2 linked regions of the Homo sapiens genome follow. The protein of the gene in region 1 purifies or fractionates together with the protein of each later gene. This does not show direct contact. Each region holds a gene or a part of one and is shown in the gene's direction. Other genes may lie near its edges. The genes, in order: MDGA2 and SORT1.

The links.
Region 2: the proteins of MDGA2 (region 1) and SORT1 purify together in Homo sapiens (affinity purification with western blotting; one study listed by BioGRID). This does not show direct contact.

The regions. Positions count from the first base shown.
Region 1 is NC_000014.9:47,056,294-47,060,125, reverse strand, and holds part of MDGA2 (MAM domain-containing glycosylphosphatidylinositol anchor protein 2), read left to right. Parts: intron 1-745; exon of another isoform or gene 746-931; intron 932-1,129; exon of another isoform or gene 1,130-1,509; intron 1,510-3,832. UniProt on the Homo sapiens protein: May be involved in cell-cell interactions.
Region 2 is NC_000001.11:109,324,814-109,328,645, reverse strand, and holds part of SORT1 (sortilin isoform 1 preproprotein), read left to right. Parts: intron 1-1,044; coding exon 1,045-1,147; intron 1,148-1,485; coding exon 1,486-1,654; intron 1,655-3,556; coding exon 3,557-3,747; intron 3,748-3,832.

The DNA.
Region 1 (3,832 bases):
AAAAAAGCTAGAGACAATAAAAACATTTTTAAAAAAATTCTAACATATTTAAACGTTGGTGCTAGCGCTAAGAGATGGATTATTTTAGGATATCTGAGGGAAAACTGTTGATACACACAGTCAGTTATCACTTGTTTATGTATTCATTCAATCAACAAATATCCATTGATTCTTCACCTCAGTGTGCTAGGTGACACTGTACACTGTACTGTATGACATTCCAATATAATATTTCCTGTAAGAGAGTAAGAGCAAATTTTGTAGATCCAGGATAATTTGTCCTCATTTTCTGAGGGATAGTTTCCCATAAATGTTCTAGACTTAATCAAAACCATTTCTTTGTTTGGTTTGGTTTGGCTGGGTTTTTTTTGTTTGTTTCCTTTACAGAACCAGTGACACAAAGCTCAGATCCAAAGAATCAATGCTTTTATCTAAAAGAACTCCTTTGATGGGAGCACAGTTTATATACCATTAAACTTAGACAAAAGATGGAGCACAGAATGGAGACAAGAAAGCAGCATTATATACAGGGCTCACAAAACGAGCCCTAACATTTATTTTTAAACATACTAGTTATATTGCCTGTTTGAAACTATGTGTTATATATGACAAAATAGTAAAGATGACCAACATTGATTTGTGAAATTTCCACCAATCCTTTAAAGAAAATTCAAGATTAGTAATAAGAGATTGGTTGTAATCATTAAATTTTCCTAACTATCATTAATTTGCCTGGCTACCCAAGGTAACACTATTGGAGATAAAAGAAATATATTGACTTCTTCCAAAACACTACCCCTGGAAAGTACCCACTTAACTACAGATAGATGTGGTTTCTCCATAGAATGGAAGCTCTACAAAGTCTGAGACTTTGTCTGCATCACTCATTGCTATAATCTCAATAGCCGAAACAATACATGGCACATAGAAGGTACTAAACAGATAATTATTAACTAACAAAATGACTAATTTATGCATACACCTTTCATTTTAGGTTTTCTCCCCTCCCATTGTCTCTATAATATAGACATTTGCTGTGCCTCTTACTGCCCTTATTGTAATTCCCTACTGACTTAAAGTTATTTGATAGACAAATTTATAGTGACTTAATGTTTTATCACTCCCAAAGACAGGAGCAGCTCCTCAATTTGTGGTGTCCAGTGAAAATAAAAATGCATGCCCCTTGTTCAAAAATTAATAAACTCACTATGGCAACATCAAAGCATTAAAGCAAATTTGGGGCTGTTCTAAGTGTGGCTACACGGATGGCAGGCTCTTGAGGCTAGATGGCCTAGGAGATTTTATTGTGATAGAAGGCCTACAGAAGATGATGCCTAACCTAAAGAATGAGTTACTGAAGATGATTACATATTCTGTCTTCAAGCCAAAACTGACCTTTGATGTTCCAATTTGCTTACAATAGAGTGGAATACTAGAATGCAGTATAAAGTTCTATAAATCTGAGATTGTATGATTCAACTGACATCATTAAAATGATATTTATCCCAATACTATTGAAGACTAAAGTGCTTTAATATGAAAATAGGTGTATTCTAGGATATAGTTTGAACAGTGAAAATGAATAAGCTATAGCATACAAGGAAATCTTGGATTATATCAATTTTATGAACCCTGGAGGATACTGAGGAAATTCACACAAATGGGATGAGTGAGTCAAAGAAAAGGAAGCAACAATGTAAGACATAAATATATATGTGGTGATGTGTTAGATTCTTGGTTTTGCTAGTATTTCTATTATAAGAAATTGAGCATTGACCAAATGGTCAGTAGCTGACTTGTGGGCTAAGCATTTCTTTATGTTAAATATAAGGCATTTTAGGGTGACATTTTAAAACATTTTGAAAATTTCTGAGCTTTTTGTTTTTCATATAAAATCTTACATCGAATCTCAATTGTTACTCTGTTGTTTCTTTTTCCTCTCTCTTTAATTCTTCATCATTCAATTTGAGTGTTACTGTGTTTTAAGAGTCATATAATGATATTTTTTAAGTAGAGGCTGAGATACCACAAGGCATTTTTACCTGAGACAGAAAATCATTTTTCTTAAATGACAGAGCCACATTTCAACATATGTTTTTGATGACTTTTAAAATTGAAATACAAAATATTTCAGGGAAGTAAATCCTAATTTACAGAATTATTCATATTCTCAAAAGACAATGATCTGATTTTAGAAGACAGTTTAGGGCCAGGCATGGTGGCTCACACTGTAATCCCAGCAATCTGGGAGGCTGACTCAGGAGGATCCCTTTAGGCCAGAAGTTTGAGGCTGCAGTGAGCTATCATGGTACCACTTCACTTCAACCTGGTTGACAGACCAAGACTCTGTCTCAAAAAAGCAAGGCAAGGCAAGGCAAGGCAGGGCAGGGCAGGGCAAGGTAGGGCAGGGCAAGGTAAGGCAAGGCAAGGCAGATTGGAGAGGAGAGAAGAAGGGAGGGGAAAGGAGGGGAGGGGAGGGGAAAGGAGGGGAGGGGAGGGGAGAGGAGGGAAAGAAAAGGAAAGAAGAAAAGAGAGGCCTCATGTGTTTTGGAGTTTGAATTTGATTGATAAAAACTATGATATATGTGATTATAGGTTGTCTTACTTTCATCTTTAAACATGCAAATTGTTTCATTGGGAGTATTTTTTTTTTAATTTAAAATTAGTGTTTCCTTTAGATTTCTTTCCTGTGTTATTGCTACATATACACTCTGTGTTATATGGTGATAGTACAAATAGGCCTTGCCCTTAAGGAGCTTACAATCTAAATCATCAAGACAGATTACGTAGAAACTAGGCAATATATAGTGGTTGCATACTGTGCTTAAAGCTTGATCGGACTTCTGTAGAAATTGTGAATTTTTTGTTCATGTGGGTATAAGAAACTTTTACAGAGAAATGACATTTGAGTTAAAACTTGACAAAAGTAGCATTGCGCTAGTGACAGTGGAAGGAGGATATATTTGGCAGAGTATAGAGGATGAAGAAAGTCTCAAGAATATTAAAGTGATAATTATTGTTTTTACTGTAGGGCTGATATTCATTGATATGAATATAAGCAAATTATATTGGTTTATTACAACTTTATAGTTTTTTATTACTGAAGCTATATTTTATCTGGCTAGACTGCAGGTAAGTTAAAATTGTTATAAATGTTTCAATTAAAAAATTAAATATACTATATGCTATAATTAAATATACTATACGCTATAATTCAATTTTACAAAATAAAAAAACTTCACATACTTGCTGAAAAATGCATGTGAATTTTAGCCTAAAATTTTGATGAAAGTTAAATTCTTAATTATTGTCACTTGATTGTCACTCATTTGCAAAAATATAATCGTTATACAGCAGTAGACTTAATTTTCAAAGGCATTGTTGCAAAATATCTCATTGCTTCTTCCAGTATTATTCCATGGTAGAGTCCTTGGATGCTCATTAGCTTGCACTTATTTCTTTGCATGACTTGACAAACTTGTAGGTTTATAGTAAACTCAGAAGCATCTGCATCATGCCTCGAAAACCTAAACAGTGAAACTGCTGATCTGTGGAATTCCCATGATGAGACATCTGGTGGACAAATATAGCAGAAGACTCAATACAGATTTTGATGATCTTTTTTCTACCTTGTTAGAGTACATGGACATTTTATAGGCAGAAAGTGGATCCAAATTTTGAAGTTTAAACAAGAAGCTGAAGCATAGGCATAGGTGCCTAGTGGTGACCAATTGAGAAAATCTGTTCAAAATTTTAGTTTGCTGCCACCCATCTAGTTACTATAATTATTTTAGTTAACCAGTGTCTGTACAAGTATTCACATCTGCAAAAT
Region 2 (3,832 bases), on another chromosome or scaffold:
TGCTTCCAGATATTGTAGTACATTTCAGAATCAAGAGTATGCCACTGAGCTACAACTCAACAACAAACAAATAGCCTGAATAAAAAATAGGCAAAGAACTTGTATAGACATTTCTCCAAACACAATATAGAAGTGACTAACAAGCATATAAAAAGAGGCTCAGCATCACTAATCATTAGGAAAATGCAAGTCAAAACCACAATGAGGTATCTCCTCACACAGATTAGGGTGGCTACTATTTTAAAAAGTGTTGGCAAGGATATGGAGAAATTGGAGCCCTGGTGCACTTTTGGTGAAAATGTAAAATGGTGCAGCTGCTACAGAAAACAGCATAGTAGTTCCTAAAAAAAATTAAAAATAGGATTATCATATCCAGCAATTCCACTTCTGGATTATACATCCAAAAGAGTTGAAAGCAGGTTCTCAAAAAGATATTTGTACAACCATGTACATAGCAACATTATTCATGATAGCCAAAAGGTAGAAGCAACTTGTGTCTATTGACAGATAAATGAGTAAATAAAGTGTGGGGTGTGTGTGGATACAGATACACACACACACTTAAATAATATTTAGCCTTTAAAAGGGAGGAAATTCTGACATATGCTATTAATACAACATGGATGAGCCTTGAGGACATTATGCCAAGTGAAATAAGTCAGACACAAAATGACAAATATTATGTGATTCTACTTATATGAGCTACCTAGAGTAGCCAACACAAAGTAATATGGTAAAAATCATAGAAAACACAAAGTAAAATGGTAGTTTCCAGGAGCTGGGAGGAGGAAGAAGTAGGTAACAGTTGCTTAATTGGTGATTGTATTTTATAAGATGAAAAAGTTTAGAGATGTGGTTGTACAACAATGTGAATATACTTAACACTACTGAACTATACACCTAAATAGTAAATAAATAGTTAAGATAGTACTTTTACCTAGGTCTGGGTTAACTTAAAGCTTTATTGGAAGGGTTTTGTGAAATGATTAAAGAAATTGTATCTTTATCTTTGGTTCTAATCTACGCTTTTGTTTCTTTTCACAGTGCAGCCTTCATATTCATGCTTCCTACAGCATCTCCCAGAAACTGAATGTTCCAATGGCCCCACTCTCAGAGCCGAATGCCGTAGGCATTGTCATTGCTCATGGTAAGGAACCTCCCACTCACCACCTCCAACTGGAACAGTGGCTGAGCACACTGAAACTCAGCCAACAGGCTTTGAACGCTCTGAGAAGAAACAATGTGGATGCTTTTACATTCCTTTGGTAGAATTTCTTACATTATAACAACACTTTGGGTTTTTCATCAACTTTTATCAGAGAGAGCAACACAACTTCTCCGAAGTTTTTGGTGGTTTTCTTTCCTACTAAAAGAGGCTTGATGGGAAATAATCAGAATAAATTCATTCAACATTATTCTCTCTGGAGTAAATGCTCTCTGTTTCATTGCCTATTTGTGCTAATGAGATGGTGGATTATATTGCAGGTAGCGTGGGGGATGCCATCTCAGTGATGGTTCCAGATGTGTACATCTCAGATGATGGGGGTTACTCCTGGACAAAGATGCTGGAAGGACCCCACTATTACACCATCCTGGATTCTGGAGGCATCATTGTGGCCATTGAGCACAGCAGCCGTCCTATCAATGTGATTAAGTATGCATGAACTCATCTCACACACACTGTCTGCATAGAGGGCAACTGGGGGAATGTTCTTCAGTTTATTGGGGGGATGTTACAGACTATAATTCAAATTTTTGCATTTGACAGAACTATAGATAAGATTCTAGAAAGGATTGCTTTTAATTGGCAACTCAGATTAAATGGCATTGTTTTTTCTTCTGACTGCCTTTAGCTAACATATTTGTCACTTCTTAAAAACATTCTTTCTGGGTTGGGCGCAGTGGCTCATGCCTGTAATCCCAGCATTTTGGGAGGCCAAAGCAGGAGGATCGCTTGAGGCCAGGAGTTCAAGACCAGCCTGGGCAACATAGGGAGACCTTGTCCCTTGTCTCTAATATTATTTCAATCAAAAAAAAAACCATATATATATATATGTGTGTGTGTATATATGTATGTGTGTGTGTGTATATATATGTGTATATATATGTATATATATGTGTATATATATGTGTATGTGTGTATATATGTGTGTATATATATGTGTGTGTGTGTGTGTATGTATATATATATATATATATATATATATATATATATATTCTTTCTGTCTACAAAATTATTATGGAAGCGTTCAAGCACTCTAGATTGAAAATGACTTCTTAAGTACAAGTTCTGAGCTGGGTGCAGAGGCACACACCTGTAATCCCAGCACTTTGAGAGGCCAAGGTGGGTGGATTGCTTGAGCCCAAGAGTTCAAGACCAGCCTGGGCAATGTGACAAAACCCTGTCTCCACAAAAAAAAAAAAAGAAAAATTAGCTGGGCGTGGTGGTGCACGCCTTTGGTTCCAGCTACTTGGGAGGCCGAGGTGGGAGGATCACCTGAGGAGGTCAAGGCCACAGTGAGCTGAGATCGTACCACTGCACTCCAGCCTGGGTGACAGAGTGAGATCCCGTCTCAAAAAAAAAAAAAAAAGAAGTATAAGTTCTTATAAAATAATTTGATTGTTATTTATTTATTTATTTATTGAGATGGAGTTTTGCTCTTGTCACCCAGGCTGGAGTGCAATGGTGCAATCTTGGCTCACTGCAACCTCTGCCTCCCAGGTTCAAATGATTCTTGCGTCTCAGTCACCTGAGCAGCTGAGATTACAGGCATGCACCACCACACCCAGCTAATTTTTGTGGTTTTTTGTTTTGCTTTGTTTTTTGTGTTTTGGTAGAGACGGGGTTTTGTTGTGTTGGTCAGGCTGGTCTCGAACTCCTAACCTCAGGTGATTCACCTGCCTCAGCCTCCCAAAATTCTGGGATTACAGGCGTGAGCCACCACAGCCAGCCTTAAATTTATTAATTTAAAAGCCAGTTCTTACCTGGGTCACTCTCCTGTCTTTCCTTTGAAATAATTTCTGTAAAGGTATTTACTTTCATATTCTCTCTGAACAAATCTCTTCCTTATCCTGTTAACTACAGACGTTAAAAGTTAAAATAGTTGGCTGGGTGCGGTGGCTCACGCCTATAATCCCAGCACTTTGGGAGGCCAAGGTGGGAAGATTACCTGAGGTCAGGAGTTCAAGACCAGCCTGCCCAACATGTGAAACTCCATTTCTACTAAAAATACAAAAATTAGCTGGTGTGGTGGCACGTTCCTGTAATCCCAGCTACTCAGGAGGCTGAGGCATGAGAGAGAATCACTTGAACCCAGGAGGCAGAGGTTGCAGTGAGTCGAGATCGCGCCACTGCACTCCAGCCCGGTGACAGAGTGAGACTCCATCTCAGAAAAAAAAAAAAAAAAAAAAAAAGTTAAAATAATTGTCAGCCAATAAGCCACCACCTAAATGTAAGGGGTTTTGTCTGGTTTGGGATCAAAAAGCCAGAGTGGTTTTCTGAATTCCCAGTACACATTGATCCTCTGTCATGATCTTTCTGTAATTGTGGTTTCAGGTTCTCCACAGACGAAGGTCAATGCTGGCAAACCTACACGTTCACCAGGGACCCCATCTATTTCACTGGCCTAGCTTCAGAACCTGGAGCTAGGTCCATGAATATCAGCATTTGGGGCTTCACAGAATCTTTCCTGACCAGCCAGTGGGTCTCCTACACCATTGATTTTAAAGATATCCTTGAAAGGAACTGTGAGTGTCTCCTTTGACCTTTTCTACCAGAAACTTCCAAGTCCATTTTCCTAAATAATCAATATGGTTTAATTTCTTTTAGCTG